Regions from separate parts of the Homo sapiens genome. Here all the other regions are linked to region 1. Evidence: fine-mapped expression QTL. A gene starts in region 1. Each other region holds a variant in brackets. All regions are shown on one strand. Distances are between the middles of the regions. Region 1 holds the start of KCNN2 (potassium calcium-activated channel subfamily N member 2). Region 2 overlaps LOC124901047 (a long non-coding RNA gene). Region 3 has its middle 43 kb from the start of KCNN2.

Region 1 (10,583 bases):
TGAGGAAATGTCTGTGAGGCCCTTCACAGGTAGTTTCTACTAATGAGAGGCGACTATATTCTTCAGCTGTGAAGAAGAGCTAGCAGAGTGTAAAACAGACCCACAGAAAAATTCAGAAGATTGTATTTGAAGTCTGGCTTCTCTTTGCTGCTCACTAGCTAGCTATGTCACCTTGGGTAGGGTAGGCACTGCATTTCAGATATTTTCGTTACTTGTAAAACGGAGTTGATGATAAAACCTTTTCCTGCCTTCCATATGGCTTGTTGTGAGATGCAAATAAAATAAACACATAAGAAACTACTTTATAAACTAGAATGTGCTGTCTGCTAAGTTTTATGACTTTCTAGATTTGGGTGTTGTGTTTCTAGCTGCCAAAGGATATTTGTTCATGAAATCCAGATTATTTTAATAAGACTTAGCATACACAATGATTTCTACCTGTTCACCCATTTAATTAACACAAGTTCTACTAGCAAACTCAGTATGAGTTTTACTTTTGTCTTTTTTTGCTGGCATTGCAGAGACTTTTATAGATATGCTAACTAGCTGAGAAACGGTAGGAGACAAGGGTGAGAACAGGAAAAACTGAAAAGTTAGGAAGTGAATGGATAGGCCCTAACACAATAATTAGCCCCTAAAAAAATAGAGGTATTGCTAAAAATTTATAAGACCATCACCAATATGCTCATTCATGTCTTGATACTTTATAATCATAAGGCAGAAGTATGAAGAACACATATAATAATTATGATTTTTATGTTTTCTTCAAATTAGTAGATTTCTTATAAAGTGGGGCAATGTGTGATTTAAAAATAATGGTGTTTTTAGGGCCTTTTAATTGTTATGTTTCCAGAAACATGGAATTATTACTGTGCTAAGGAAATAAATGATACTATCCTGATTCCCCACTGGCATTTATTGCTAAGGACAGTAAGTTCAGAGTGGCGGTGTCTCATCACAACCTCTGCGTTTGGCACCACCAAATATTGTAGTTGACTCACCCAGGCAAAGAAAAAAATAATTCTCAGAAAAACATTTACTTTGTAGGTCAAAATTTTCCTTCAGACCACCCCAATATGGGAAACAGATGCCAGGGACCCCTGGTCTGATTGAATTTGGAAATATACCAAAAACACCCAAAGTCAAGAGAACCCTGCTTTTTAAGGTACAACAAAAAGACATAGCATAGACAATACTATAAAGAAGAGAATTATGAACAATGGCATAATAGAAATTTGAATAAAATAAGGGATTGGAGTGCAAACAACATGAAATTTTTTTTTTTTTTTAATTATACTTTAACTTTTAGGGTACATGTGCACATTGTGCAGCTTAGTTACATATGTATACATGTGCCATGCTGGTGCGCTGCACCCACTAACTCGTCATCTAGCATTAGGTATATCTCCCGATGCTATCCCTCCCCCCTCCCCCCACCCCACAACAGTCCCCAGAGTGTGATATTCCCCTTCCTGTGTCCATGTGATCTCATTGTTCAGTTCCCACCTATGAGTGAGAATATGCGGTGTTTGGTTTTTTGTTCTTGCGATAGTTTACTGAGAATGATGATTTCCAATTTCATCCATGTCCCTACAAAGGACATGAACTCATCATTTTTTATGGCTGCATAGTATTCCATGGTGTATATGTGCCACATTTTCTTAATCCAGTCTATCATTGTTGGACATTTGGGTTGGTTCCAAGTCTTTGCTATTGTGAATAATGCCGCAATAAACATACGTGTGCATGTGTCTTTATAGCAGCATGATTTATAGTCCTTTGGGTATATACCCAGTAATGGGGTGGCTGGGTCAAATGGTGTTTCCAGTTCTAGATCCCTGAGGAATCGCCACACTGACTTCCACAATGGTTGAACTAGTTTACAGTCCCACCAACAGTGTAAAAGTGTTCCTATTTCTCCACATCCTCTCCAGCACCTGTTGTTTCCTGACTTTTTAATGATCACCATTCTAACTGGTGTGAGATGGTATCTCATTGTGGTTTTGATTTGCATTTCTCTGATGGCCAGTGATGATGAGCATTTTTTCATGTGTTTTTTGGCTGCATAAATGTCTTCCTTTATGCAGCCAAAAAACACATGACTAAAGAGCTTCTGCACAGCAAAAGAAACTACCATCAGAGTGAACAGGCAACCTACGAAATGGGAGAAAATTTTCGCAACCTACTCATCTGACAAAGGGCTAATATCCAGAATCTACAATGAACTCAAACAAATTTACAAGAAAAAAACAAACAACCCCATCAAAAAGTGGGCGAAGGAGATGAAGTTTTTTTCCCAAGCTCCTGTGGTCTGAAAAAAGACATGCTTCTAAGAAAATGTGTTTGTGTGTGGGATGGGTGTTTGTGTGCGTGTTCACAAGCTTGAAATTCAACAAACATGGGAAAGCAATTGTTGTAGGCCATAAGAAAAAAATAGGCAATTTTTATTAAAAAGTGATGCTGGAAATAGATTTAATTGATTAGATTTGAAATACATTTTGTGGCTGAGTATGACCTCTGGTGTTAATCTAGGGAAATTCTCTCACTTATATGCTTTAATGGAACAAAAAGAAGGAAATTTAATTTTCTGAAAGCTTATCACTGGAAGTCATAGCCCTTGATCTGCGTCTTTTTTTTTCCCCCAATGTTTCTTCATTTCCTTCCTCTCTCCTTCTCTCTGTACTCACAAATATAAATAAGTATCTACTATGTGCAAACTACTATCCACGTGGAAGAATATTGCCTTTGTTGCTTCATTTAACTTTACATGTTACATGTATCTCTACAGTCCTGTGTAGAAAAAAAAGAAATCATGTTATGCACATTTTAAATGTCTACATATAAACTTAAAATTTGTTGACTTTATTAAAAGAGGAATGATGAAAATAAGAACTTCTTAAATGTGCCTGTTATAACCTAATAGTGTAAAATGCCTTAAATAATGAAGTTATGATTCAGACTAAAAATGAAACAAAATTATCTTGTGTTTTTTCATCATCATAGTAATACAGGTTTACCACACTCTCAATATACAGATATTTATTAGCAAGACGGCTGAGTGTGTGTAATCAGTTGATTTCTTAACAGAAAGCCGATAAATGTCTGATTGATTTGCTCTCTGTCCAATCACAGTGAGTTTTACATTATTAAATTATTTTATGAGCTTTTTCAAAATAGTGCTAGCCGGAAGTAGTATTAGTCTGAGTTTTGGTGTTCCGACAGTCCCTCATGTTGTGAATCAAATTTCCATTTTCTTCTGAATTTTGTGCATTCTATCCTCCTGTGTACCCCCTTGAAGAGAAGTGAGAACTCCATGCAACATTGCCATAAATCTCAGTAGGCAATTTCTGAGATGATTATTTCTACATGATTTCTACATGATTAATAGCACTGCAACTAATCCCATATTACAGCATAGAGATATACATGGCAAAAGATACATTTTTGCCTATTATTTTGGTTTTGGAGCCTCTGTTGAAGCCGTGAATTTGCTATTTGACAAAGTCAGTTTGACACAAGGGATGCAGCCATTATTTTTCTTATGACAGTTTAGTAACTGTAGAACCTTATATCTAATTTAATGCTGGCAACAACTATTATGATATTTCAGGGGTGGAGGCTATGTAATCTTTTATCTAAATTTATGAACGGCTAATAAAAATATTTATTAATTTACCATAATGTTCCTTTGAAGTATTTAGATTTGTAAGGATGAATCAAACATTTTCACTCAATCGCTACGTATAGCAACTGGAAAGCTACATAATTTGTTGAAAAGCGTCCTAATACATGTTTGATGGATTTTCCGCATGAGTTGAATTTCTTTTTCAGACCAGGTTAGTAACTTTTCATAGGGAAACTTTCATTTTAATTCAAATTACTTCGCAGGATTGTTTTGAATACTCATGCTTTCCACACAATTTATGCAGTATCTACTCAGCTGCCCCGAAGACTCAATTAGCTTCGTGATTCTAAAGAAGTTTTATTGAATTGCTATTTTGAAGATACAGAACAAAAATAGTAATAGATGATAAAAACAAAATGCTGTCTCTGATTGTTAGCCACTAAATTATATTCTTGACCAAGACCATTGAGAAATTCAATTCCGGACAGTATTAATTAGCTCAAGTCCAGGGCTACGGGACTAAAAGCAGCTGTGCACCCCCCACCCCTTTTTTTCTGCTGAATGTTTATTTGCACACACAAAAAATTAAAATTAACATGTGTCCAAAGAACATCATAAAATGAATTATTCATTCCATGGCATTGAAAGCGCACACACGCACACTCTGAAAAGCAGATACCAGGTAAGCAACTTTAGGGCAGCTGCCGAGTAGAATATCAAGAAATTGGATCCAGCTGAGAATTCCAATTACCTAATGACCTAATGAGGGTGATCCGCTTTCACTCTAATTGCTAGGTCTAACTCGTTGTAATAGTCTTTATCATGAAAAGCAGGCTTTAAAATAATTTAAAATGGAAACAAATATTCAACGGGCCAATTTCTTTCACCTTCTTTAGGGGGAGACGGGAATTTGAATTCACAAAGAAATGCAAATGTAAAGACTTAAGATGGAGCAGAAACAAAGAACATAAGGATCACCTAGTGCATTGTGTTGGTACATCTCTTAGAAGAAGACAGCACAGGGAATTTGTGAGACACCAAATGCAATTTTTGTTAGTTTATTAGAGAGTAAATAAATAAATAATGATACCGAACTCCAACAAAACTCCAGCACTGTCCGTGGGCAGCGACTATTCAGCCCAAGCTATCATTCTTAATTTCCCTGCCAGGCTGCGACTACCGGGGTGAATCAGCCCGCGCCAGGCCCCTTTCCCACCCGCCGCTGCAGTTAGGACTTGGCAAAGATGCTCGATATTTGCGTATTTGTGACCGGTCTTTGCTTTGTGTCTGCGCTGCAGGTGAGGAGGAGGAAGAGAAGCAGAAGAGCAGCTGGAGGCCGGCGGTGGCTGAGCAGCCCCCACACCTTTGAGCGAGCCGCCTGCCTCTCCACCGGCAAGGAAGCCCTGGGACCTCCGGATTCGGGCTGCCGGAGGGCCTGAGCGCCAGAGCCCAGGACCCGGCGGCCGGGGGCGCCATCCCCTCATGTTCTGGAGAAGGCGCAAATGTGAGCTGGCGGTAGCGGGGAAAGCCCTCCGCCCCCGCCAGGGGGGACCCGGGAAGCCCGGCCGGCTCTGTCGGCAGACTGCGGGGATCCCCTCCTCCGGCCCCGCCCCCACCCACCCCCGGCCGGGGTGCCGAGGCGGTTAACCCTACCCGCGCCGCAGCGCACTTGGGCTAGAGCGCCGCGCACCCAATCCAGATTCCAGAGCCTGCCGGCTGGGAAAGATCCGGTCTCGGGGTCGGCTATGATCCCGCAGCGGCCAAGGCAGGGCTCAGGCCCCGGGATTCTCCCCACACGCTGCTGCACTGGCGCAGCCGGTCGCCAAACTTTTTCTCCCCAAAGCCAGTGCCCCCGCAGTTACTTGGCGGGCAGCCGGCAGCCCACTCTCGGCGGGATGATCTGGGAGAAGCGGGCGTGGGACGAGGGGGCTGCTGTTTTGCAGCCCTGCGAGGCGTGCAGTCGGAGAAGTGGTCGGGGTTCCACACCGTCCCTGAGCCTGCCCCCGGCCAAGGTGGCCCGACGTGCTGCAGTGGCTGGCGCAGGTGATCCGGGCAGCGCGTCCGGCACTAGTCAAGGGGGCAGCGGCACGGGAGGGAGGGGCGCCTTTCTCTTTTCTCCTCCCCCTGCAGCCCAGCTGCACTGCGTGGGGGCTCTCCATCTCCACGCAATCAGCAGGCGGAATCCCTGCCCTGGAGCGCCCTGGCTCTGGACTGCACCCCCCTAGGGTTTGTCCTGCAGATTCCCCTCCCCATCTTTCTCTGCCACACACGCTTCCCTAAGCCGCGCGCGCCGCAAACTCAGTCTCGGTCCCCGCAGGTGATGTCATGCCCATTGTTTTGGTGCGCCCAACCAATCGGACTCGCCGCCTGGATTCTACCGGAGCCGGCATGGGCCCTTCCTCGCACCAGCAGCAGGAGTCCCCGCTCCCGACCATAACGCATTGCGCAGGGTGCACCACCGCTTGGTCTCCCTGCAGCTTTAACAGCCCTGACATGGAAACCCCATTGCAGTTCCAGCGCGGCTTCTTCCCAGAGCAGCCGCCGCCGCCGCCGCGCTCCTCACACCTGCATTGCCAGCAGCAGCAACAGAGCCAGGACAAGCCGTGCCCGCCCTTCGCGCCCCTCCCGCACCCTCACCACCACCCGCACCTCGCGCACCAGCAGCCGGCCAGCGGCGGCAGCAGCCCATGCCTCCGGTGCAACAGCTGCGCCTCCTCCGGTGCCCCGGCGGCGGGGGCGGGAGATAACCTGTCCCTGCTGCTCCGCACCTCCTCGCCCGGCGGCGCCTTCCGGACCCGCACCTCCTCGCCGCTGTCGGGCTCGTCCTGCTGCTGCTGCTGCTGCTCGTCGCGCCGGGGCAGCCAGCTCAATGTGAGCGAGCTGACGCCGTCCAGCCATGCCAGTGCGCTCCGGCAGCAGTACGCGCAGCAGTCCGCGCAGCAGTCGGCGTCCGCCTCCCAGTACCACCAGTGCCACAGCCTGCAGCCCGCCGCCAGCCCCACGGGCAGCCTCGGCAGTCTGGGCTCCGGGCCCCCGCTCTCGCACCACCACCACCACCCGCACCCGGCGCACCACCAGCACCACCAGCCCCAGGCGCGCCGCGAGAGCAACCCCTTCACCGAAATAGCCATGAGCAGCTGCAGGTACAACGGGGGCGTCATGCGGCCGCTCAGCAACTTGAGCGCGTCCCGCCGGAACCTGCACGAGATGGACTCAGAGGCGCAGCCCCTGCAGCCCCCCGCGTCTGTCGGAGGAGGTGGCGGCGCGTCCTCCCCGTCTGCAGCCGCTGCCGCCGCCGCCGCTGTTTCGTCCTCAGCCCCCGAGATCGTGGTGTCTAAGCCCGAGCACAACAACTCCAACAACCTGGCGCTCTATGGAACCGGCGGCGGAGGCAGCACTGGAGGAGGCGGCGGCGGTGGCGGGAGCGGGCACGGCAGCAGCAGTGGCACCAAGTCCAGCAAAAAGAAAAACCAGAACATCGGCTACAAGCTGGGCCACCGGCGCGCCCTGTTCGAAAAGCGCAAGCGGCTCAGCGACTACGCGCTCATCTTCGGCATGTTCGGCATCGTGGTCATGGTCATCGAGACCGAGCTGTCGTGGGGCGCCTACGACAAGGTACAGGCTTGAACCCCAGCCCACGCTACCGGAGTCGGGCACTGGGTGGTTGGGATGGGCACTGGCGGGGACCCTTTGCGTGCGGATCCCTAGCCTCTCCGGGACGATCAAGGGAGCCCGCCAGGACAGCGGGCGCGTCTAGGACGCGCATCCGTAGTCAGCTAAACAACTCGGAGATGAACCCTTTCCGCGTGCAGCCAAAGTTCTCGAGGCAGTTAAGAGTGCTCAGCGCATTCGGGCACCTTAAGTAAGTGGTTCTGGAAGTCGGTGGGGAAACCATCTGTAATTCATCCCCTCGTGAATTATGTTTAGAAGGGCCCTTTCAACCCGCTCTCTTGAACTCAGAAGTAAGTTCCTCTGGTTTTGCTAGCCTGGAACAGCGGCGCTCGCTTCGGTCCTCTATGGCGTGGACCCAGCAGCCCAGCCACGCGTCTTCCCAGTCTTTCCAGGTCTACTCTCGTCTCTTTTGGTTTTGAGGCCGAGTGATCTGACAGATCACAGAGCCAAGACAGGTGCACCCCTCTCCCCTTATCTTCCTTCTGTGAGTTCAGGTCCACCTGTGGGGGACTGACTGACTCTGGGGACGTGGAAGGCGGTTAAAAGTGCTTCTTTCTTAAAAGTGCTTCTGTCTGACTGTGTTGCAGGCGTCGCTGTATTCCTTAGCTCTGAAATGCCTTATCAGTCTCTCCACGATCATCCTGCTCGGTCTGATCATCGTGTACCACGCCAGGGAAATACAGGTAACTTAGGTCCTGCTGTTTATGAATGACCCAAAGCCCTACAGTCAGCCTAGAGAAACGCAAGGCAGCAGAGGCTTTTTTCAAGCCATCATGTCCTTGCTTGAGGTTACAGAAGACACATGCTGTATTGTTACCGTTAGCACCTGACCTGTTCTTTCAGGAAGTGGAAAACAACACAAGGCAGGGTAGCATATAAACATGCAGCATTTTCTGAGGTGTATTTGTTGGACCCTTAAGATTTTTACTTCTCTTCAGTAGGTGGATCCTTTTCTCCAGATCAGTCACATTTTGTTCCTTAAGGCCAGTTATGCTCTAGTTTTAATCTGGAATGAACTTGTGTTCTTGTTTGAGACACCTCTTCCTAGTGGGTGCGTCATTATGGGAGATTGTATCTATCTATATAATCTTCTGTAATTTAGCATAGAGAAGAAAACTGGGTGATGAGTTGCCAGCTAATTTATATAAATGAGATATGGGAAAAGATCTAACCCCTTCCTAAATCCCCCACCATTAAAAAAAACTGTTGTAAGTTTAGAATGCAAATTCTGTGTATCCAGTCATGAAGTATTTTTTAAAATGTAATTTAAGAGTTAAGGCCACTGTCCTTGTGAGTTCTTTTTTTTTTTTTTGAAAATATTTCTTTTGTTTAAATGCAGCCAGGAGCTCTATATTTGACTGTTAGTATCCATATCAGAATGCTCTATAAAACTTACGGGTCATCTTGTCAGTTGTTAGCCTACACAGGAATATTAAGGCTTTTAAATTAAAATAAGTATAGAGTTTTCAAAAATTAGATTGGGACTTTTTTCAGCTTAGAATTTGCACTGTGTGGGAGGCGCGGTGGCTCAGTCCTGTGGTCCTGGTGCATGAGAATTTGCACTATGTATTTTCTGAGTTTTTTTTTTTCTTTTTTGAGCAGTTGTTAGACATTTGGTGGTACTTTGAGACCCTTAATTTAGGCCATCTTCCTTTAGACTGCCTCAGATTTAAGCTGCCTTTCAATTTAAAATCTTATATAGGATTTGCCTTTGAAGTAATTTAGTATTAATTTAAATTAAATTAATTTTAAATTAGTAATTAGCAAACACAAAGTAAATATGGAAGAAATCGTTTTTAATGATGCCCAGACAAAATAGTGATGCACATTACTCCAAGTGCAGAGGGAGAAATTACTTCACGTTGCCTTTATACTTGTAAAACTTTGAAAAATGTGTTTTTGAAGGGATGAGGTTGGAGAATGATAATTAGAAAGAGTGAGACTACTCAGAAATAAATTACAAAACTGCACTGACAAAATGAGATGAACACACATTTGAATTTTTTAAAGTTTTAACAGTTTACATAGATTCATCTTTAATTCAATACTAGTGATGGTTGGGCTTTTGAGATTATTTTGAACATTTTAAAGTGATACTAAAATATAACTTAAACATTAGAAATTTATCTTTTCATTTTGACTTGAAGAGTAGACAATTAGAGCTGGAAGGAACAAAATAGGTTTAATGGTCCTTTGACTCAGTTTACAGATAAGGAATCTGAAATCAGCAGAGGTAGCTTGCCGGGCCACACAGCTAGACAGTGCACAGTGAGAACCAGCCCTATCCTAGCTTCCAGGCCATAATGCTTCCTCTGCGAGCTGCTGCTACATGCCAAAAACTGTGAAACGTGAATATTTCTTTTTCTGCAGTTTCCCTCTAAATCCAAAAGTTTGGTATATAAATTCAGTTAAACTTAAAAGATCATTCCAAAATGTTCTTACATATTTTTAAAAATCAAGTTAACTTGAAAAATGTTTTGTTTGGAGGACAGAGTCGTTTTGCTTAATGATTCTGAAATGAGAGATCTTGCTGGGTTTTATTAAATATCAGCTTTGTGTTATTGCCTGTTCCTTGTGAAAATCACACAGCTAAAGAAACATTCATGGGGGAGGACATTTGCTGGTATTAACATCAAAAACAAAGTGTCTTGAAAACATTGACTCTTTAAGAATTATTGGGAGATTTTTTGAAGTAATTCATAGGAGTCTAAGAGCTACCAAATGTTAACTATTTGAAAAAATTGATGTCATATTAGAACGCTTAAAATTTACAGAAGTTTATAAAAAATCATATTTTTATAGATTAATGCTTGAAAGCATTCCACTCATTGGCTAATTTTGAGGACCATTTCAATTATGCATATGCACATATATTTTGATTAGGGTATGTATTGCATGGGTGAGAAAAATGACATGGAATGACTCTCCACGGCAAATATGCACAGTGAACTTCCTTACTGTTGGTCAACATAAACGTTATAGAATGATATATGTTTTAAAATTCGGTTTATTTTATATGATATGTGGTTTCTGTTAAACCCACTATACTTAAGATAATTTCAAAATAGATGCTTGGGTCATGTCATTTAATTAATTTGGATGTAGCTTTTTTACTCGGTGTATTATCTAGAGGGATTTCTCCTTTAAGCTGAAGCTCCAAATTCTTATCTGAGATGCTTTTATTAAAAAATAAATAAATAAAATGGAGAAGGGCCAAACAAATGTGAAGACCCTGAACTGGAAGTCAAGAACCAGAAAAAGGTAAAGATGTTCTAATTTGTCCAGA
Region 2 (10,583 bases), 490 kb before region 1:
CAAGCTTCAGGTCTTCACACATGAAGGTGCAGCTGCTCTGGATGAAGTGTCTGTGGAATGAAGGGGAAGGGGAATATGGAAGCCTCCAAGAACTCTTGAACTCTTGGGCTAGAGCTCTGATGGCACAGTTTTGGAATAGCTGGTCTTTTTTAAAGGCTCTTTTCATGTACCGAGGGAAACCAAGACCTGGTGAGCAGAAGTGTATTGTCCACAGTCACCCAGGAAGCTAGTGGCCACTCTACTGCCAAAGCCAGGTCTCTTCACTCTTAGTCTCATTGTTCTTTCCATCTTCTCCTGGTGGGTATCATAGCCTGGACATTTTTTTCCTTAAATTGCAAATATTCTGTGTGCACAGGCTGTTTCCTCCAGAATATTCTTATGGTGCTGAGGCAGGAGAGCTGCCCATGCTATTTGCTCATAGACATCAAGGGTGCAAAAATCCCCTGCTTTCTTGAAGTTGTGGCACTCTATGTGGGTGGTTAATGTGGGCATGGCAGCCTTTGATGTGGTATCCTTTCAGTCTGATGTGGCTTATACTTGCCACATTTTTCCTCATAGTAATTCTCTTAATTGTGTTTTCCAAGTCCTGACTATGACATTAGCTATCATTTTGTCATCTTAATTTTTCAGATTTTGTCTTTCAGGAAGCTGCTTCTGCAATTTTCTGATGCTACTCCAGAGGGCTGGATGGAGCCCTGATAATGTAGGTGCACAGCCAGGCTCTGCCCACCCTAAGATTTAGTGGGTGGCCTCCTAAATGTAGTGGAGGTGGCTTCTCTGTATCCTCACACTTAGAAATAATTCTTTCAAAAATAAAACCTCTAAAGTTCAAACAAACCAAACTTTAAACAAACTGAGATATTTTTAGAGTGACACTTTTGTAGTAAATTCTTATAATTTTATATTGCATCGGCATCCATTTTGAATATAAGTTGAACTTCATACCAGAAGCAGGGCCTAGTGACTTTTGACAGTTTCCATTTCACCACCTTCTCCCAGTTTCTCCAGATGTCTGTTTTAGACAACTGCCTCCTTGTGACCACCCTCCATGGGACAGCTAGCTGCAACCTACTTGACTCGCTCCACTAACCCCTGTAACGCACATGGACTGTGCAGGTATGCCACAGTGGGCATCTCTGAGACACAGCGAGACCTCACAGAACTTGTGCCTGCTTGCTTTAAACCCACCAATTAGTGCTCCCCTTGGGAAACCTGCTTGGGTAGCACTCTGAACCTCAATAAAGACTTTGGTCCACAGACTTCTCTTACTCTGTCTCTCTGACTGTCCACCCACTGGTGGAGTGTGCATGTCCCAGATAGCTTCCACTTCCTGCTGGCTCTTCTCTCTGGGATCTGTAAGTAATAAACTGCTCCCGCTATTTCATGTGTTTTGTTGAATTGCTTCTTCTGTGTCTCAGCTGACTGACACACCAAACCCAACTTCTTTCCCCGTCAGGGCTCTCCTAGAGGATGGCTATCTTAGTAGAAGTAAACTAGACACAGATCAAATAACAGCCTCAGGGTGTCTGCCAGTATAATCAAGTTTCTTGTAAGAGAAACCTCAAGACCAAATTAGAGAAAAGAAATATAACAACTTTATAAAAACTAAATTCTATGATACAATTATTTATACTTTGTACCATCTTCAAGCCTCAAAAAGATTTTTATTGTTTAAAAAATATTTTATTTTTAAGATATACTTTATTGAGATAATAACTTAATAAGTAAAATATTTAAAAAGATAATTTCTTTGATTCAAAGTCTTTTATATTTTTGTGTCTGTAGTTGAAAAATAAAGCTAATAGGTTTCTTTCTTACCCATAGAATCTCTCTCAGCATTGTATTAATCCAGCCAGGTCTCTGTGCAAAGATGACATAAAAAAGTCATTCCTGTGATGCCCTCCTTCTCTAACTTCTAAAAAGGGAATCCTCCAGTGAATTTTAACTTCTTACTTTTTTTGTATTTCATCCTCTCTTCCCTAGGAAGAGAAATAAAGTGGCTAAGGTCATATTGCAGGTCATATTTCTAACGTTCTGCAATTCTGATGGTTCTTTGAAGAAAAGATCAGAGTGCTACTGAATATATAGCAGGAAGTCCTAACCTTCTTCAGAGGAAGCAAATTTTCAGGTGTGTCTTCAAAGACAAATAGGAGTTCTGTGGAAGATTGAAGAAGAGAGATGTATAGATGTGTAAAGAACAGTCCAGGTAGGGATCAGTATTTGTGAAGACACTTGTAAATCATCATAGAAAACAGTCACACATTCTCTCTGGTGCGGAACCAATTCCCTGGTTCTCAACATACTTTCTTCCTTTGGCCTCCCCCTTTCTTGCTTCCTTTATTCCTCTCTCTTCCTATTCCCATTTCTTCTGCAAGTTCCCGTTTCTCTGCTCACTTCTTAATGGCTGCTTATTCTCAGGGCTTTGTCCTTGGACCTATTTGTTCCTCAATTTAACTTGTAGATTTTGCTCTCCACTCCATGGATTTAATCACTATTTGCTAACTGTATATAGAGAGTTGGTTTTTTTTAGTATATAGATAATAATAATAATTAAATCCATAGTCTTATTTATTTATTTATTTATTTATTTATTTATTTATTTATTTGAGACGGAGTCTCGCTTAGTCGCCCAGGCTGGAGTGCAGTGACGCGATCTTGGCTCACTGTAAGCTCTGCCTCCCGGGTTCATGCCATTCTTCTGCCTCAGCCTCCTGAGTAGCTGGGACTACAGGCACCTGCCACCACGCCTGGCTAATTTTTTTTGTATTTTTAGTAGAGACGGGGTTTCACCATGTTAGCCAGGATGGTCTCGATCTCCTGACCTTGTGATCCACCCATCTCAGCCTCCCAGAGTGCTGGAATTACAGGCGTGAGCCACCACACCCAGCCAAATCCATAGTCTTCTAAGAATCATATCAAAGAAGTTTACTTTGTTGTCTGAAATCTTTTTTATCTTTTTGAAATGATATTATTGTAAATTTGTACACTGTGGTATTTTACCCATTTATTTACTTTTTCAACAAATATTTTTTGAGTGCTAGATGTCCAACACTGTGGTAGGTGCCAAGGATATAATAGTACAAGGGGACAGGAGGTTGAATAGCAAAGGGCATCTGACAGGCAATTAGTCAAGATGAACTAAATTGTGTTCTGGTGAAAAGTACAAATCCCGAAGTTTCAGTGACTTAATGCAACAAGGGTTGATTTCTCATTCACGCTATAGTCTTACAACTCCACCATCATAATCATAAAATCATTTGCTTTCAGCCACAAGAACAAGAGAGAGACCATGGAGAATTCCCACCTAGTTGTCACTACTTCAGATAAGGGTGATGTCATCGCTGCCAGGCAGCAGAGCACAGCTAGTCACAAAGCCCTATCCTTCAGCAAGAGAGGCTGGAAAAATGTGGAGGAGACATGGGGTGGCACCACTGTCTAGCCCACATCCAGTGCAGGGATCAGGAGCTACTTCTCTGAGAAAGAGGTATTTATTTTAAGCTAAGACATTAAGTAAGAGTGAGGCTAGCTGACTAAGGAACATGTGGAAAAGCATTTCAGGCAGAGGGAACTGCATGGGGAGACTGTGAGGGGAGAGAGACTGGCACATTTGAGGGATTGCAAGATGACCAGTGTGGCTTAATGGGTGGGGAAAACTCAGGTTAGAATATGGGCAGAAGCCAGATTGTTCAGGACCAGGTCAGGCAGGGAATGTTAAAGATTTTTGGTTGTCTATACTAAATGTATAGAAATTCACTTAGAAATTTTAAGCAAGGGCATGACATTGAGCCCTTTGTGTTTTAAATGATTACTCTGACTATAAAGTGAAGAATTTATTGGAGAAGATATAAATAGGTCTGGGAGACCAGTTAGGAGGTTTTTGGAAATCCAGGAGAGAGGTGATGGCAGCTGGGATAAACAAAGGAACAATGAAAGTGGAGAGAAATAGATGTGTTTGAATAATTTAGGAAATAGAACTAACAGACAAGGGAGGGATTGGATATGGAGGGTGTAGGAATCAGGGTATTGATAACACGATTTTTCCTGGAAGAGCAACTCCTGAGCTAGGAAATAGGAAGCACAACAAGTAGGTTTGTTCAGCGTAGGGGTGAGCAGTGGGGGAGTGAGCAATCATGTATTTAGTCTTAGAGCAAGAACTGGGGTTGCTTGTTCGATATCTAAATGGAGATGTTGATGAGTGAGTTAGATATATTTTATGGAGCTTCAAATAAAAGCCTGGACTGGAATGATACATTGTAACTCCTTGATTTATAGATAGTAATTGAAACCATAGAAGGGACTGGGAGTGCCTCAAGTAGAAGAAAAGACAGCTCACCACAGATCCTGAGAAAAAGAGGGAGAGGTTAGGAAGAGTTGGAGAAGTGAGCAAAAGATTGGGAGAAATAACTAGAGAGGGAAAAGGAAAACCCAAAGAGTGTAAGGTCATGCTGGAGAAGGGTCTTCCCTTATGCTTCGAATAAAGATTTTTTTGGTGAAGTTTGATGAGGCATCAAGTAAGATGAGGGCAGAAAATGTCATTAGATCAGGCCCATGAAGGTTTTCAATGACCTGAACAGAACAAGAGTAGCTTTGGTAGACAACTCTGTTATCGACTTTGAAGTTAACTTTCAGCTGTGTTTGGTTTAATTGCTCTGAGTAACTTCTCTAACAACTGGATTTTGTTAAAAAAAAAAAAACAAACTAAATGTTTTAAAAAGTTTTCTATAGAGCAGAACACTGACTAACAGAATGGAAATTTAACTGTTTCAGCACACAGCAGACTGGTACAACTGATATAGGTTTTCAAAGTTGAATTTGGTGAACAACATTTTTTTTTAAAGTTTAAAGATCAGTATGCCATTGGAACAACTGTGATATAAAAGTGGAACTGTGTATCTTCTTAGTATGTTTTCATTGGTGCTAAACAATTATTTCCAGTTTGCTTTTTATTCAAAATTAGAAAGTACAGAAAACCAGAGAGGCTAGAGCTATAGAAATTATCCAGGGGATGATTTAGAGAAATGGTTCTGTGAGGGAAAATTAATGATGCTGTCTAGCCTGTGAGAGAAAATGAGAAGGAGCACCCCATAATCTTTTAGTCAGGACTATAAGGAGGTACAGAGATAATGCTGACTAGTGGCTCTTCATATCATGGAGGGCCAAAGGGAAAGAATTGGGCTAGAATTTCTGTAAGAGATCAATGATTTGATAATAAGAGCCTTTTGAATGTAAATGATTAAAAAGCTGTAGAAGGTTATGAAGAGAAGTGGGAGATTTCCTATCTTACAACATACGTAGCAAAAGAGTTGGCAGTCATTTGGGATTCTGTCATTCTTAATGGGGTTTTCTGGGAATGGGAAGCCATCACACATCTTTCAGGGACCTCGCTGATAAGAGAAATAAGCCAGTGAGGCCCCTGAAAAGGGCAGCTGAGTGTTCCCCACCTTTTCCTCATAG[T/C]ATTCCTCAGCCATGCCCTTATGATGTTTAAAGAACCAGAAGGACTTCCTGGTCTACTCTAAAACCTTTGGGAGGTCTGGGATTTGGCTGCTTTTGAGGCTTTACTTGTGTCCTATTTAGTGAAGTTAGTTAAAGATACACTGAATTGTATTAGGACCTTATCTTAAAAACCAACATATTTCCTTCTGTAAGAACCTCCCTAGTATACCCTGCTAATATACCTACCCTCCTTAATATCTTCAACTTTTCAAGCACTTTTGAGTGACCACTTCCCTTTACTATGCAAATAACAGTAATTTGAGCCTGCAGCTCATGTAAGCCTGGGAAATCTACTCCTGTTTCAATGATTTCTGAAGATCCCAGGGAATGCTCACATGTCTTCGTGCTTTGCTGGTTGCACCTCCCTTTGAACGACTGTGCTGAATGGGGCTCCGCTTGCCGTTTCTTTGGCTGCCTCCAGAAACCACCTCCATGTTATTGAGCTGCTTCCCTGCTGCCCTTCATGCTATGTATGGATACAGACCTTCCTTTAAATGTTACCCACTCAATGGACACAAAGTATTTTAAGCAGACTTTAGTAAGTTTTAGTGCAGCAAGGAGGAGAGGGACAGGTGACTTACACTGCAGAAAAAGAAAACAAACCTGGTTATAAACATTGCTTCTGAAGTCTATACATGCACAACATATGGGCCTCCTACTGACTCTTTCCTTCTTGACTCTGGCCTGCCACCATATTGCTGGAGGTCATTGATCTTCCCAGAATCCCCTTTCTCATTTCCACTTTCCTGAGTCAGGGCCCCAACCCTTTTCCTCACCACTTTTATGAGAACCAATAAACTTTTCACATTATTTTTGCAGAGTAATTTAAGTTTAGGCACTTGTTGACTTGACTCAATGCATAGCATGTGCTTTCTTTGCACAATGGCAAACAATTTTCTTTGCAAAGTTGAAGCACATTCAAGTTCTTTGTTTCGTATTTTTCATCAATAGGGCTCTGGCCTTTAAAATGACCTTATAATTTTGAGATGATAAGTCATTCTTACAGGCTTCTAAGGTCCCAAACAAAATTATTAAGCATATGCATGGTCAAAGTACTTGAACTTTCCTTTCCCAGAGTCTGTTGCTGCCAATTTCAGATAGTGGAAAATTTGTCTCTAAGAAAATATATGTGTGTGTGTGAACTCCCAGGGTTTAAATAAAGTCTATCCCCTTTACATTGATATTCTCAATATTGCATAATTTACCTTATAGTGGTACTTAGCAGAGGAGAATATGCAGACAGAAGCAAATTCATAGAAAGAATTTCTAGCAGAACTTGGGGAGAGGTTAAAGGGAGTGAACTTCACTCCCAATCTGCAACATCCATCAATCCTGAAGTCCTGTTAATGTTGCCTCTTTAATGTCTATCTGTTCTGCAGTTACCTGCTTAAAGTCAGTATGTGCTAGTTTTGTATTCCTAGCTCCTAACAAAGACTGATAAATAGAAGGTACTCCTCCAAAGGTTGTTGCATGACTGCATGGATGGAGGAATAAATGAGAAGGAACTAGTGATGCTGGAAATGTGAAGGTAGAATCCTAGGCAGGCAGGACCAGAGGAGTTGCCTTTTCCTCAGCAGAAAGCTGGAAGAGAGAAAGGAAAGTAAGTGTAGGGTCAAAAGAACATGATAAGATTGAAAAAGGTAAAATACAAAGCCTGTAATAGATTTTTACAGATCAGTTAGGCAGAGAAGGGGAAGTGTGACTTAAGTTGCTGTGTAAAGATAGAAGGTTTTTATTTATTTACAAGCTAATTTGAGCCATTGGCAGGGTGAGGGAATAAATAATAATCAGCACCATTGTTTATTAGACACTCACTTGTACCTAATTTAATACTAAGTGTGTCATGACCATGTTATTTAGTTTTTATATCAACTCTATATAGGTAGATTTATTTATCTTCATTTTATAATCAGAGAAATTGAGTCTTGGAGAAATTAATTAACTTGCCCAGGATTGCATGTAAAGTAAGGAGTCGGGATTTGAACTCAGATCTGTCTGACTCTAGATACTGACTCTTAGCCTCTGTGCTACTGTTGCATATAAATACTGATAATACATTGTATCTCCTTCATCTTAGTGTGGCTTGATTCTCATGTTTAGAAGGAGGAAACAGCAGGAAGGCAGGAGTGTAAGTTTAAAGAAAAATAAAAAATGCAGGAAGGACGGACTCTAGGCAGCCTCCACTTACTTCACAACTTTACCTAGAGTTGCTTTAATTATTCTGAGGAATAAGCTAAGTTTTAAAATGCTAACTGACACTAGGTAAACATTTAATTTTCTCCCAAATCTGTTTTGTAGTTGAAGGAGCTCTGGCTCTGAGAACAAACTAGTACTTTGTATAGATTTACAAAGCTAATACCTTAAAACTGGAGTCAACCCCAGACCTGTCAATCTCAAGACCATACTCTTGCCATAACTCCATAGCAACCCTTTGTGCAATAGCAAGCATTCATCATAGGTAGATTAATAATATTTTATAGTAAAAGAATCACATAGAGCTCAGGTAACTCAAATACTTCACTTGGTATTAAGAAAATGGGGTTTTAAAGAAGCAAATTGATGTGGCAGTGATCATACCAGTGGTCAGTGAAAACACTGCTTTTTGCTCAGCTTTCCTGGCTTTCATAATCTTTTTGCCACTAGAATTAACTGTCTTTTTAAATCTTAGATGCATTCTTTGACCAAGGTTAGATCCATATGTGTATACCAACAGAGCATGAGGGTGAGTCTGCTGTTTTCTTTGGGCAGCTCTCTTTTAGGGAAAGCGCTTCACAAATGTCTGTGCCTCGGGCTCTGATCCATTTTCTTTGGTGGTGCCCAGGTATGTAGAATTAGATATTAGTACTTGCTTGTTGGCTCTCTGTTAAAGCTTTTGAATGAAGTCTGCCTGTTAATTGTTTAAAAATGGGGCTAATTATTCTTCTTTCTGCAGCCACAGACTTCACAATGATGGTGTAATTGCATTCAAATATTGGACATGCACTATGTACTAAATATTTGAATTCACCGAAGCAAAGTGTGTGTCCCTGGGATAACGAATATCTTCTGAATTGTAAAATTCAGGGGTTTTATAAAGCAAAAGGAACACTGATGAAATTAAACTAACTTGGGAACAATAGGCTGCTTTTCAAGGTTAGTCTTCTGTGTCTAAATTATATATGTATTATTGTTCCTCACTTGCATGACCAATTATAGGGAAGTTCCTTATTGTGAGATGCGATAATTTTATATAATTGCAGCAGCTTCAGCAGTTTTGAAGGAGGTTTCCCTGGCAAAACATAGTCTCAGGGAAAACAAATTATGTTGATTTACTAGCAATTCTGCAAATGGGTTGTCTGGGGGAATCGGGGGAGTCTTTTTATGAAGCACAAAGAAACTGCTCACTATTTGACATTTTAAATTGCTTGCTCAGAATATGCAAAACTGCAGACATCTAATTGCATGTTGTCTCCTCTGAGGAGCCACTATTTTTATTTGGAGACTGTGTGATGATTAAGGGGGAGAAATGATATTCATTTTCCCAAGTCACAGAGGTCAGGGCAGGGGCTATAACATCCAGGAAAAAGCAAAGCACAGCAAATCGGTAGTGAATTCCTATTTAAAACTGCTCTAGTAGCTCCACGTTTTACTGAAATTAGATTATTTGAATGTTGTCACCACATGAGCAGCATGAGAAGGGAAGGCACTTGCCAACCTAAAAATGACAATGGCATTTCTCAGATGGCCAGTTGTGATGAGTCCCTGAAGCAGACCAGGGAGCTGCTCTCTTGACAAGTCACCTACATACTGTAGATGCCCACAGGAAGATGCAGAATGGCTAGGTCTTGTGGCTCCCAAGCATAAGAATGCTGTTTGTGCTAAAAATAAAAACGGAGGTATAAGGATGCGGGGCCATTGCGCGCGCTCTCTCTCTCTCTAACTAAATCTTTGAGAAAACTTGACTTTCTTCTGGGAATTTCTGAGCTGGGATTGTGGAGTACTTGTCATAAATTTGTGCTTTCTTTATTTCTTTAAACATAAACATGGCCAGGCTTTTTTTTTCTTTCTCTTTGCACTAAATGTTTTAAACTCTTTATGTGTGTCACTTATGTGGAACTTATGATACTTGCTGTTTTATCATACTTTTGTTTTATGCCAGGTTGCCAGGTGAGAAAATTATAGAAAGTAGAGTCATCATTTGAAATATCTTACATCTCCTGTCTTGCCTAGCATGGTGGTGCTTTTCATGCAGAAAGTTCGCAATAAACGTTGCTAAATGAATAAACAGATACATCTTGGACAACCTCTGGACTTTTTCTCCCCAGATGTTTCCCAGTGCCTATAGCATGTGTCGGGGGCATAAGCTCACAATTTCACTTCCTCCTAGATGTATTGGGTGATGGGCATGGAGACCTCTGCTTTGTTCCTTCCATCTCCTTACTGGTTTCTTCTCCCAGGACTTACAAAGTGAAGAGAAATGTCAAGGCTGTCTTCCAGACCTGGGGCTGTGTGCACAAAATTTTCTTATTTTTAAGTTCAGAAACTCAGTAAGAATTTTTTTTTTTCACTGCTCAGACAGTATAAACTATGTGTATTATATCTTTGGTGAGTTTTCTTAATGGGAAATGTAACTGCCCTCAGTTTCAAAGAATTAGGCCCCTTTTTCATGACCCTTTATTTATTTATTTTTTTCAGAAGAGTCTTGCTAGAACAATGAACTGTCTTTAGTTTTTCTGGAACTAATATTACTCTTTACCCCTAAAATTTTAAATATAGTGTGGCCATCATTGTTTTTGGCAATCTCTCCATGAGATAGATTTAAGGCTAATATTCAGAATGCCAATTTTCATTCATTTTTATTCTTAAGAAAATAGTCTTATATTTATAAATGAATCTTGTAATGAAATCACAACACTCTCAAATTCTACATGCAATCTGTGTGTACTCCTATTTGAGATCAGAGTCATTTTTACTTTAAATTCTAAAACAGAATTTTACTAAGTTTATGATAGTGCAGAAAGATCTCAATAAACATTGCTAAATGAATAAATGGATGTATTTATTGATTTCGATGTAGGAATAACTTGAACAATAGGCTATAGAGGTAGAGC
Region 3 (10,583 bases), 42 kb before region 1:
CTTCTAAAATCACTTTTTAGTTAAACAGTGTTTTTTTGTTGTTATTGACAAAACCAAATAACTACTTAATCAACTTCGATGAACGTTTCTTTTTCGGTTTGATCAACAGCTTTGGCACAGGGAGTAGCACTCACTAAAATGATTTCGTGGATCACTTTTCTTGTTTCTACAGTTTTTGTGTAGCTGTTCATGTTGTATAGGACATGAACAAAATGAGGTGGGAGCCGCCTCCTAACAACTTTTCAATAAAATTAATAGACTTTATTTTTAGAGCAATTTTAGGTTACTAAAAAGTTGAGCAGAAAATACACACAGAGTTCCTATATATCACTTCCCCCCTGCATAGTTTCGCTATTAACACCTTGCACTGGTGTGGAACATTTGTTTCAATTGATGAACTGATATTGATGCACTTTTGTTAACTAAAGTCCATATTGTGTGTTAGGGTTCTCTCTTTGTGTTGCACTGTTCTATGGCTTTTAACAAATATGTAATGTCATATATTTACCATTGCAGTGTCATACAGTTTTTCTACCCTAAAAATGTCCCATGTTTTACCTATTCCTCTTTTCCCCACCCTTAAACCCTGGCAACCTCTGATCTTTTTAATCCTCTCTATATTTTTGCCATTTCTCATATAACTTTTCACTTTAAAAATTTTTTACTTTCTGGCTGAGAAGCATGCCTTTTACTTATGTTATTTTCCCTTCATTTTCCTCACTGAACTAGCAGAAGATTTTCTTTTCAGAAAGAATATAAATTTTACCACCAAAAAGTTATTGTACAGGCAGCCAAAGTGTAGAATAATAATAGCCAGCCTGAAGTGTAGTTGTTTAGAGATAACCCAGGCCCACTCACTTGCCAAGTGACTCCTTCTTGCACATTACACTTTGAAGCATAAGATTCAAACTAATTCATTTACAAAACAATAAATTGCTACATGGCATGGACCTTAAGGTGCTCTTGAGGACCCTCTAAACATGAGGGTTAAATCCACAAATGCCAAAATGAACTAAAACCAGTATATTTGAGCATGTCACTGAGGCTAGTTCCTCTAACAAGAACACAGAGGTTTGATTGCTGCCTCCTCATCCACAGCTGAGCTTGATTCATAGGCTACTAAATCAACAGGATCTGATGGTAATGGTGACTCCAACCTAGGTTTCTTATATTGGGAGCAAACAGGAACCAGAATCTGTGCTTCACTGCTCTCAACCATCCTTGTCCCAGGAAGACTTGAGCACCTTCCATTCTTCTGTTCTTCTGTGGCCTTGTATGTTGTGTTGTGGGTTATGTTTCTCATAAACTATTATACCTGGTGAATTCAATTAATTCAAGCAACATTCTCACCAGTTACAGGTACTTAATAGTTTGGGTTCTTTGGATATATCTGGGCAAATATAGGGCTCGTATTTATTTTATAGAGATACCAAAGAGACAAGTGTAATGCCTAGCATGGAACACACTAAAATAAGCAGGTTTAGAGTGTACCACCCATGGAAGGCAGAAACTGTGTGTGTGTGTGTGTGTGTGTGTGTGTGTGTGTGTGTGTGTGTATATATATATAAAACTTCTGTTTTAAAAGTGGACTATTCTTATTATTTGTGATTCATGTTCATATTTTATTACTTATTTTAGTGGTTTTAAAATAAATTTACTATATTTTCACATTTCACAAAATCACTAACATTGATTACATATAGGCATAGTTGTCATCTCCCATTACAGAAAATTCAGAGAACTATCCAGATTTCTTTATTTTGTTGGATTTGTTGGATTTGGGTTAGTCAAATATTTTGCTTATTGAAATGATGTGTTTATTGAAATAGAGTAACCCTGTTAACATACTTTTTAAAGGTTATATCAAGAAATATGTAATAGAAACAGATAAAAAGCACTTTGGAGTTCTCTGGGTCCTTGATAGAGAAGCCTTTCTGTGGAGTGACCTTATTGGAACATTCAAATCCTAGAAGCAGAGTTACCTAAGATATGCTGAGATATAGAGTAGGGAAGCTGTTAGGAATCAGATATTGTCCTGAGGATGGGAGTTGGAAGGAGGCAAAAAAAACCATTTGGTCTGGGCCTTGTATTTACCAAGGAACCTCAAATTGAGAGACTATCTTGAAATAAGTTTACTCATGCAGCAATAAGAAACACAGCACTGAAAGATATTCATCACACACGCATATAGTGTGTGTGTTGTAACCTGTTTTAGCATATCTTCCATCTATCAGGAGCCCCTAAATTAAATTGCCAGGAGCTCTTCTGACTTATAGGAGATGCAGCATGGTACCTTATAAAATTAATAGGTGTGGATTGTTATAAATTTATTTTTAGTAATAATTTTTCCCATGACATCCTGTACAGAGTCCCAAAATATAAGACAAATAGAAGCAAAACTATTCTCTTAGAATCAAAGGTCACTGGAGCCCCCTCCTGGCCCCTGAGCTTGTAGCTAAGATACATCTGAGGAAACTTAAGACTTCAGAAAACAAGATTTTGAAACCGCTAGACTAGCTTAACGCCCTTGATTTACAGATACCAACGTGTAGGCTCAAAGAAGTTAGGTATTGTACTCAACATTGCCCAGCTGGGGAGAAGCAGACCCGCAGATACACAATTGTTGGGTACTTTTCCAGCAGTAGGAATTGCTGAATAATAGTTTCACTTTGATCCTGTGTTATTCTGGATTCAGAAACCCAGAGTTCTCAGGAATAATGGTGTATGAAAAGCTGTTAACATGGTCCCCAAAATAAATGCATATGAAAAATGTAACCCAATCAGTCATATTACAAAACCATATCTCTAAATCATTAATACATATCGCTATCTAGTCCAGCCATGATTTAAAACACGCTCTAATGCAGTTATAATATTAAGGCATATATGTGTGTGTATGGACTCAGGTCTGGCCATCTGTACTCATCTGTGAATATAAGTATAGTCAGTCATACCTGAGTCCACATGCACAAGAAAAAGGCAAGGAAAGGAACAGTCCAGGGTGTTCTTTGAAAACTGCAGTCATTTGGTAAATGATTATGGAATAAATTCCAAACCTTGAGCTCATGCTAAGGCCCTTTGAGATCAGCAAGTGCTTTCCAGAAGGGGCTTTTCAGCAGAGTGACATCCTTGCAGCTTTTTCCCAGATTTTTTTTTCACTTCCTTCAATTCCTTCATCTCTCTTCCTAGTGAACTTCTACTGGCCCTATGCTATTACTATAACTTTCTGCTTTTGAGCCATGGCCCCTTGAGATCTTGGAAAAATAAAAAGAAAATAGAGCCTTGTCTGGACTATAGAGATTTGGAAGCTTATTGATCCAATTTTTTTTTTTTTCAGGAAGCCAGCTTTGTAATGTCTCAAGCCTATCTTAAGGAAATACACTTTTTTACAAAGCTTATATCGTCGGACCTGCAGTGTCTTGTTGGCTTGCCTTTTCTAATTCACTTTTAGTTTAGGCAACCCCTCACAAGGTAACTTTGACTTCAGAGATCCCAGCTTCTTAATCAAAATATCTGAAATCGCTCATGCCAATTATATTATTCATTGTTTAAAGTGTGCAATGATAGCAAAAATCATCCATTCTTTCTTAGACTATACTTGTTGATCTCAAATCTGTTTTATCTGGAAATTAACCTCTTTCTGACTTACATTTTTTGGGGGACTTTCTGATCCCATTCCCTCCTCTGTTTTTGGCTGTAGCTTTCTCATGGTGGTGTTGACCATTCTGAAGAGTCCTGCACCTCCATGAGTTATGTGCTACAGAAAGTCTTAGAGTGAGGAGGAATTTTGGAAGTAGATCCTATGTCACAGGAGAACTCAGGTGACAATTCAGAGCAAAGAGATGAAATACCAGTAGAAATAAAAGTAGCTTACACATTAGCCATTATGCTAAATTCTACAATACTCACATATTTAGCAAAATGGGCATGTTTCTTAGCGACTGCCTGCCGCAGGCAACGTGCCTGCCCATCTTCACGGCAGCACAAGTATGACTATGAAATGAGTTGTAAAGCACTGAAGAGATAAGAGATAAGGGACTGGGAGGGGGCAGGGATAATGAGCAAACGAAAGCAACAGATCAACAGTACACGTGGATGTTTATTATGGTGTACTAGAAGGATAAGTCCATTCACATTCCCTGTGTTTTTTTGTTCCATCTCTGCACTATACTGATTGTCTGCTCTTTACCTGACACTGTCCTACTCATCTCCTGTCTGCTCTTCAGTTGGACTCATTATATTTCTACTTTCTGGAGATGCTTATTAGTTTAGTTTCCTTTTTGCTTAGGCAGGATAATGCTGTGTTTTAAGGAAAAGGCAATACAGTTTAAAGACAGGTTCTCTAAGTGCCCTACCTTCAGATTTTACCCATACTTTATTTTGGAATATTATCAAATCCTTATTACCATTGTCAAATCCTTATTACCACTCATTGTTGTTTGTTTGATGTTCTCATCAAAAATATTTTTTTCCTAGTAAAATCTGAAGGATGGCCACTTACATACGTATTAATAGAGTATATATCTTGTTTAAGGTATGTATTTATAACCCCAGATCTGAAAAAGTTGAAACTTCTGATAATGTATGAACTGTAGCTATATTGTACTATATTATACCACTATATATAATCATACACTTATCATAACAATGATAATATCATAATGTAATTTTGTATTATATAAGAATACATAATTGTATATGATAATTCATATATAATTATTATGTATAATTTATTATACCATATTATTGTTCACAGGCTGGCAGGCACTGTAATTACATTCTTTCTGTAATCTAGATTTACTCAGGGTTCACTGACTAAATTTATACACTGTGGGTATAAATCATAGTTACAGTTTAGATTCTCTTCCTTCATAAATGTTCTTCCATAATCCTTGGATTATGCTTCTGGGAAATCTTGTTTCCTATATAAGCATGTATTATGTTCATATTTTGATTGTGTTCCTTTTAATTATTCTCACTGAACTATTT[C/A]AGTATTACAGCTGAAAAAGACATTGGAGAGTGGTGATTGAACTGTGGGTAAACTGAGGCTCAAAGATACTGAGTGAGACATCAGCCATGCCACTCTGCGATTTTATCATTCATTCTTCTTTCTTCTGTGCCCCCAACGTACACAGACCTCTGTATAAATCCTGAGGCTAAGGGGTATATTCAGGAATATACTCATTCCCACCCAGAGACTGAGTGATTACCAAGAATAGGGGAGACAAAATAGATTAAGGATGGCCTTCATATTCTGAGCGGGAAAGCAGCTAAGTCCACTGGCCCCTTCTTACAGTCAGTTTCCCACCACTGGTCTTATCTGCACACTGAGGTTCTTCCAGCCCTCTCCATTGCTGTGTCTACCCTGAATCTCCCTGCAGGGAGGCTTCTTAAGGGGATGAGCTGTTTCCCTGAAGAGCCCTATGAAGACAGAGAAAGCAGAAGCTACACAGGTATATCTCCGTGCAGTTCATACCCAGCCTTTGGTACTGCCTTTCTGTCATCAGTTGGCTGTTTGCCTCAGCACAGTGGAAATTCATCATAGAAATGAACTCTGTCATATATAGCAATTTAGAATACAGCCTGAAGCTCAGAGTGATAAAGGAGGATGGTTTTATGCCCATAAATATATTTAAAGCTGAGGTGAGTTGCTACTAGAAAATCATTGTTTTATATGTAAATCTCTACTCCTTTGCCATGGTTATTATAAATAAATCTTTATATATTCAGGCAAAAGTCTGACTTAAGTTGCACATCCAGGTTAATCTGAATGTAATATAACACAATTGCTCCTCGCTTCTAAATCAAACACTGTAAGATATAATGCTTGATAATGTTTCATTATTATGCCAAAATGTCAAATTTTTCTCTTTTATTAAGGTAAGTTCAAATCAAAGATGCTTTGTCCCATCACATGCTGTCTCATTCTATAATATTTTTATGTGCTAATTGTGACTCATATAATCTGCTTACAGAAACTCTCCATTTTCTTCCTGGTTGTTAGTCAAAGGAAGGAATCCAGTGTTTCCTTTGATACAGAGCTCTGAGAAAGACTTCTATTTTCAGTTGTCTGTTTCACTTCCTTGAAGCTCATGGGAATTGTGGACAAAATGTTTACCCATTGTTACTCCACCATCTTTTTTTAAAATGGAAATTTTAACACATAAATAGAAACAGATCCCCTTCTTCATATCCCCAAACATGAATGAGTAATCATAAAACAGGAAAAGATTCGAGTACAGTCATATAACTGATGTATTAAATGGGTGAATTTCATAGAGTAAAATCAACATACCCTGTCCTTCCTTGGGTCTGGATGTTATCACAGCCATGTCCCAGACCTTTTTTTGGTTCTACAGGGTATTAGATTAGTGAGGGTTAAAAAAAAATTTTAGTCCAATTTAAAGAAAACATTCATCCAGGCCGGGTGCTGTGCCTCACGCCTGTAATCCCAGCACTTTGGGAGGCTGAGGCGGGCGGATCATGAGGTCAGGAGATCAAGACCATCCTGGCTAACATGGTGAAACACCGTCTCTACTAAAAAATACAAAAAATTAGCCAGGCCTGATGGTGGGTACCTGTAGTCCTAGCTACTCGGGAGGCTGAGGCAGGAGAATGGCGTGAACCCGGGAGGTGGAGCTGGCAGTGAGCCGAGATCGCGCCACTGCACTCCAGCCTGGGTGACACAGCGAGACTCTGTCTCAAAAAAAAAAAAAAAATGTTCATCCAATCCCAAGCCCCTCCCTCTCCACCAGATCTGGCCCAACTAGTGATCCCACAAGCAGGTTTGGAGGGGTAGGGTGCATGGTTTGTTCCTCTCCATCCTTCATGTATCTTCTTCTCCATTCATTCCAGAGAAAGCATAAGGATAGAGATAGTGACAGGTAAAAGAATAGTGTTGTTTGTTTGTTTGTTTTTAGTTGATGCTATCTTTTTCAGTTCTTTTAACTGTCAAGTATCCTGTCATGGAAATCATTGAAATGTTAGCTTTTTCATGAGGTTCAAGAGGAAATACCCCATCCACAGATCTCTGATGTCCCCACATTGCACAGATCTCTGATGGAATGCGAAAGGCTCCAGCTGAGCCCTTAGAATCCTCCCATGCTCCTGCTGTCCCTGTGGGTAGAAAGAAAAGTAGCTTACACATTAGCCATTTCACTCAATTCTACAATTGTTTCCCACGTCTTTGCATAGAGAGGTCCTTTTAGGATGCCTTTGAACCCAGGTACCTTCTTAGCATTGAGTTGATTGCTGGGGAAGTCTTGCTTTTCCAAACCATAGAAGTACAATTTACCCCCATTGTTCTTCTCTCTCCTTACCTTATATTGAGGGTTTGTTCTACTCAATTTTTCACCTTAATCTTCTCTATATAAGGAGTCTTGTGTTCATGTGTGCCCCCAAACTCCAAGACTCCCAAGCTCTGCTAAGAACTCTTTAGTGCCCTTCATCTTCTGGTAGCAGCATGGGGCAGGTCTACATGTTTCTAAAAGCTCAGGAACTGTGGTGCAGGTTGGGGGTTGAAGGATATACAGATCTCCTCATCTGGAATACAACTCTTTTGTCTATAAGTAGCTCTCTTGGAGCCCCCTCACTTGACTTGGTGGCAGGAAATGAAAGCACAGGGAAGGAAGGGTAAATTCCAATGTTCTCAACCATGAAAAATCCTTCATTGTTTCCTCTTTGTAATGGACCTCTTGCCATCTCTTACATCAGTTCTCAGGTATAATGTTCACTGGATTTGTTTTTTTTTTTTGTTGTTGTTTGTTTGTTTGTTTTGAGAGGGGGTCTTTGTTCTGTCCCCCAGGCTGGAGTGCAATGGCATGATCTCAGCTCACTGCATCCTCTGCCTCCTGGGCTCAAGTGATTCTCCTGCCTCAGCCTCCTGAGTAGCTGGGATTACAGGCACGTGCCACCATGCCCGGCTAATTTTTATATTTTTAGTAGAGACGGGGTTTCACCATGTTGGTGACCTCAGGTGATCTGCCTGCCTCGGCCTCCCAAAGTGCTGGGATTATAAGTATGAGTCACCACACCTGGCCGTCACTGGATATTTCACAGAAGCTGTGAAGATGTATTTAGCTTCTGTCTTCAGAATGTGGTAGAATTTATTACCCAGTTTCCTCAGCTTAGAAGTTTTCAATAACATTCTAAGACAACTGGAAGTTCTCTCCAATATTCTGTTACAATAAAACTCACAATTAAGCTGCAAATAACATGAAGACACCAGTTTAAATTTTCCATTTCTTGGGTGTATTTCAAAATTAGTTTATTTGTAGAATCTACTGTAGTAAGTTCCTCAACCAGAAAATGACAGAATGTTGGGGCTTAAAGAGACATTAAAATTCTTCTAGACCAACCATTTCATTTATTGGAAGACAAATAATGTCTAGTAAGTAGAGAAAGAAAGGCTTGTAATTGTTTGTAATGATCTTTGACTAAAAACTAGGATTTTTCTTAATGTATTCTCTGAAGTCTACTTAGAAGGTAAATTTTCAGAACCTGATGGAGACCCAAATCTCATATAGTCATATCTGTTTATTTTATGTGAAAACACTAATTACAGTTCAAAGATTATAAATAAAATATGTTCATTCCAAGTACTCTTTTCATTGAACTTCAGGACACACTGCATGCATACATGTGCACATATGCATACACTCCCCCATACACACACACACACACACACACACACACATACACACTTGATTCCAGGACAGCTGAGTAACAGAGTATTTTAATTGATGCTGCAGCTAAGCATGTGAAAGGTTTGAAAGCGACAGAAACTGATCTCAATGAACCTTTGTGATCTTGTACAGTCTCTCCCTTGTTATTTATTTGAGATGCTAAGTATAACTTTACATTTTGATGGTAATATATTTTAAAACATAAAATGCTTCTTTTTTAACTTTTATTATAGGTTTGAGGGTACATGTAAAGGTGTGTTACATAGGTAAACTCATGTCACAGAAGGTATTGTACAGATTATTTCATCACCCAGGTATTAAGCCCAATACCCAATAGTTATCTTTTCTGCTCCTGTCCTCTTCCCACTCTCCCCGTCAAGTAGACTCCAGTGTCTTTTGTTTCCTTCTTTGTGTTCATAAGTGCTTATCATTTAGCTCCTGCTAATAAGTGAGAGCATGCAGTATTTGGTTTTCTGTTTCTGCATTAGTTTGCTAAAAATAAAATGCCTATGCTTCTTTTAAGTGAATCCATGCTCCTCCTGGAAAAAGAGGAACCCCGGTTTACATTACAGGTACCTAATTTCAAAGCTACCATAAACAGTAAAGCTCCTCAGTAGGAAACTGCAAAGCACAGTGGTTAAGAGCATCGTCTCTGGAGTCACATTTCCGGAGTTTAAACCTGTGTTAGTTACTACCCAGCTGTGAAACTTCAATAAAGTTGCTTGATGTCTCTGTGCCAGTGTTTTCTCATCTATAAATTAGAAATAATAAGAGTGTACTCATTTCATTTTGGTACCATCATAAGCACCAAATACTGCACTTATCATGAGTTGACATTTCAAGTTCAGCCACTTAAGCTCTTAAATCTTTAAAGATAATAAAACTAAAAAAGTAATGAGAAAAATGTTTATTTTTTCATGTACAGTATAAATTGCATTAATTTAATAAAAATTCACATCTGTAAGATATGGTATGATTTGTTCTTTTCTCTTTGGAAAACATGACAGAAACCATGTTTAGTATAGAGAATAAGTATCATGATATAAACATATCAATTTTTTTTTTTTTTTTTTGCTGGTCGGGATGGAATCTCTCTCTGTTGCCAGCCTGGAATGCACGGCCTGATCTCAGCTCACTGCAACCTCCGTCTGCCCGGTTCAAGAGATTCTTCAGCCTCCCGAGTAGCTGGGACTACAGGCATGTGCCACCATGCCCAGCTAATTTTTGTAGTTTTAGTAGAGATGGGGTTTCACCATGTTGGCCAGGATGGTCTTAATCTCTTGACCTCATGATATGCCCGCCTTGGCCTCCCAAAGTGCTGGGAGCCACTGCACCCAGCCTGTCAAATATTTTAATATGTGAAACAGTGATATCTGAAAGCACATTGTGTTCTATAAGGTCCTATAAAATATTAAATGTTATTACTATAATTATAAACCAAATCTTCCTAGAATCTAACAGACTAACAGGTATTCACAGAGTATGAGCTAAAAAGCAATACATCAAAATAATTGTTAATTTGACCATTTTTTTGTCATCTTCATTAAAGAATAACTTTTATTAGGATGTATTCTTCATACGTTGTACCAACACCTATGAAATATAAATTAAATAGTATTGTGGTAAGCAGAATAATGGGCTCCCCCTTGTCCTAATCACGAGAACATGTGAGTATGTTACTTTATATGAAATAAAGGTCTTTGCAGATATGATTAAAATTAAGAACCTTGAGATATGGGGCTTATCCTAAATTACATGGGTAGGCCTAATTTAATTACACACATCCTTAAAAATAGAGAACCTTATTGGCCATGGTCAGAGTCAAAAGCAGATGTGACTATGGAAGAAGGGAAAAAATGATGTCATCTTGCAGGCTTTGAAGATGAAAGAAGGGAATCA

What was found. PIP is the estimated chance that this variant, and not a neighbour inherited with it, causes the effect.
Region 2: its variant is the best candidate, but not a certain one, in a credible set for the expression of KCNN2 in lung (TOPMed, PIP 0.55).
Region 3: its variant is the best candidate, but not a certain one, in a credible set for the expression of KCNN2 in lung (TOPMed, PIP 0.59).

What each region holds. Positions count from the first base shown.
Region 1 is chr5:114,356,022-114,366,604 of GRCh38, forward strand. KCNN2 (potassium calcium-activated channel subfamily N member 2) reads left to right here and starts at 6,049. Exons shown (of 8, transcript NM_021614.4): 1 at 6,049-7,240; 2 at 7,885-7,980. The coding sequence starts at 6,119. RefSeq lists an enhancer at 4,162-5,078 and a silencer at 5,117-5,326.
Region 2 is chr5:113,866,462-113,877,044 of GRCh38, forward strand. All of the region lies in intron 1 of LOC124901047 (a long non-coding RNA gene), which reads left to right. Among named protein-coding and RNA genes, the nearest start is that of YTHDC2, 360 kb to the left of the region's middle. The variant T/C (reference allele first, on the strand shown) is at 5,455.
Region 3 is chr5:114,313,911-114,324,493 of GRCh38, forward strand. It overlaps a transcript of KCNN2 not described here. Among named protein-coding and RNA genes, the nearest start is that of KCNN2, 43 kb to the right of the region's middle. The variant C/A (reference allele first, on the strand shown) is at 4,990.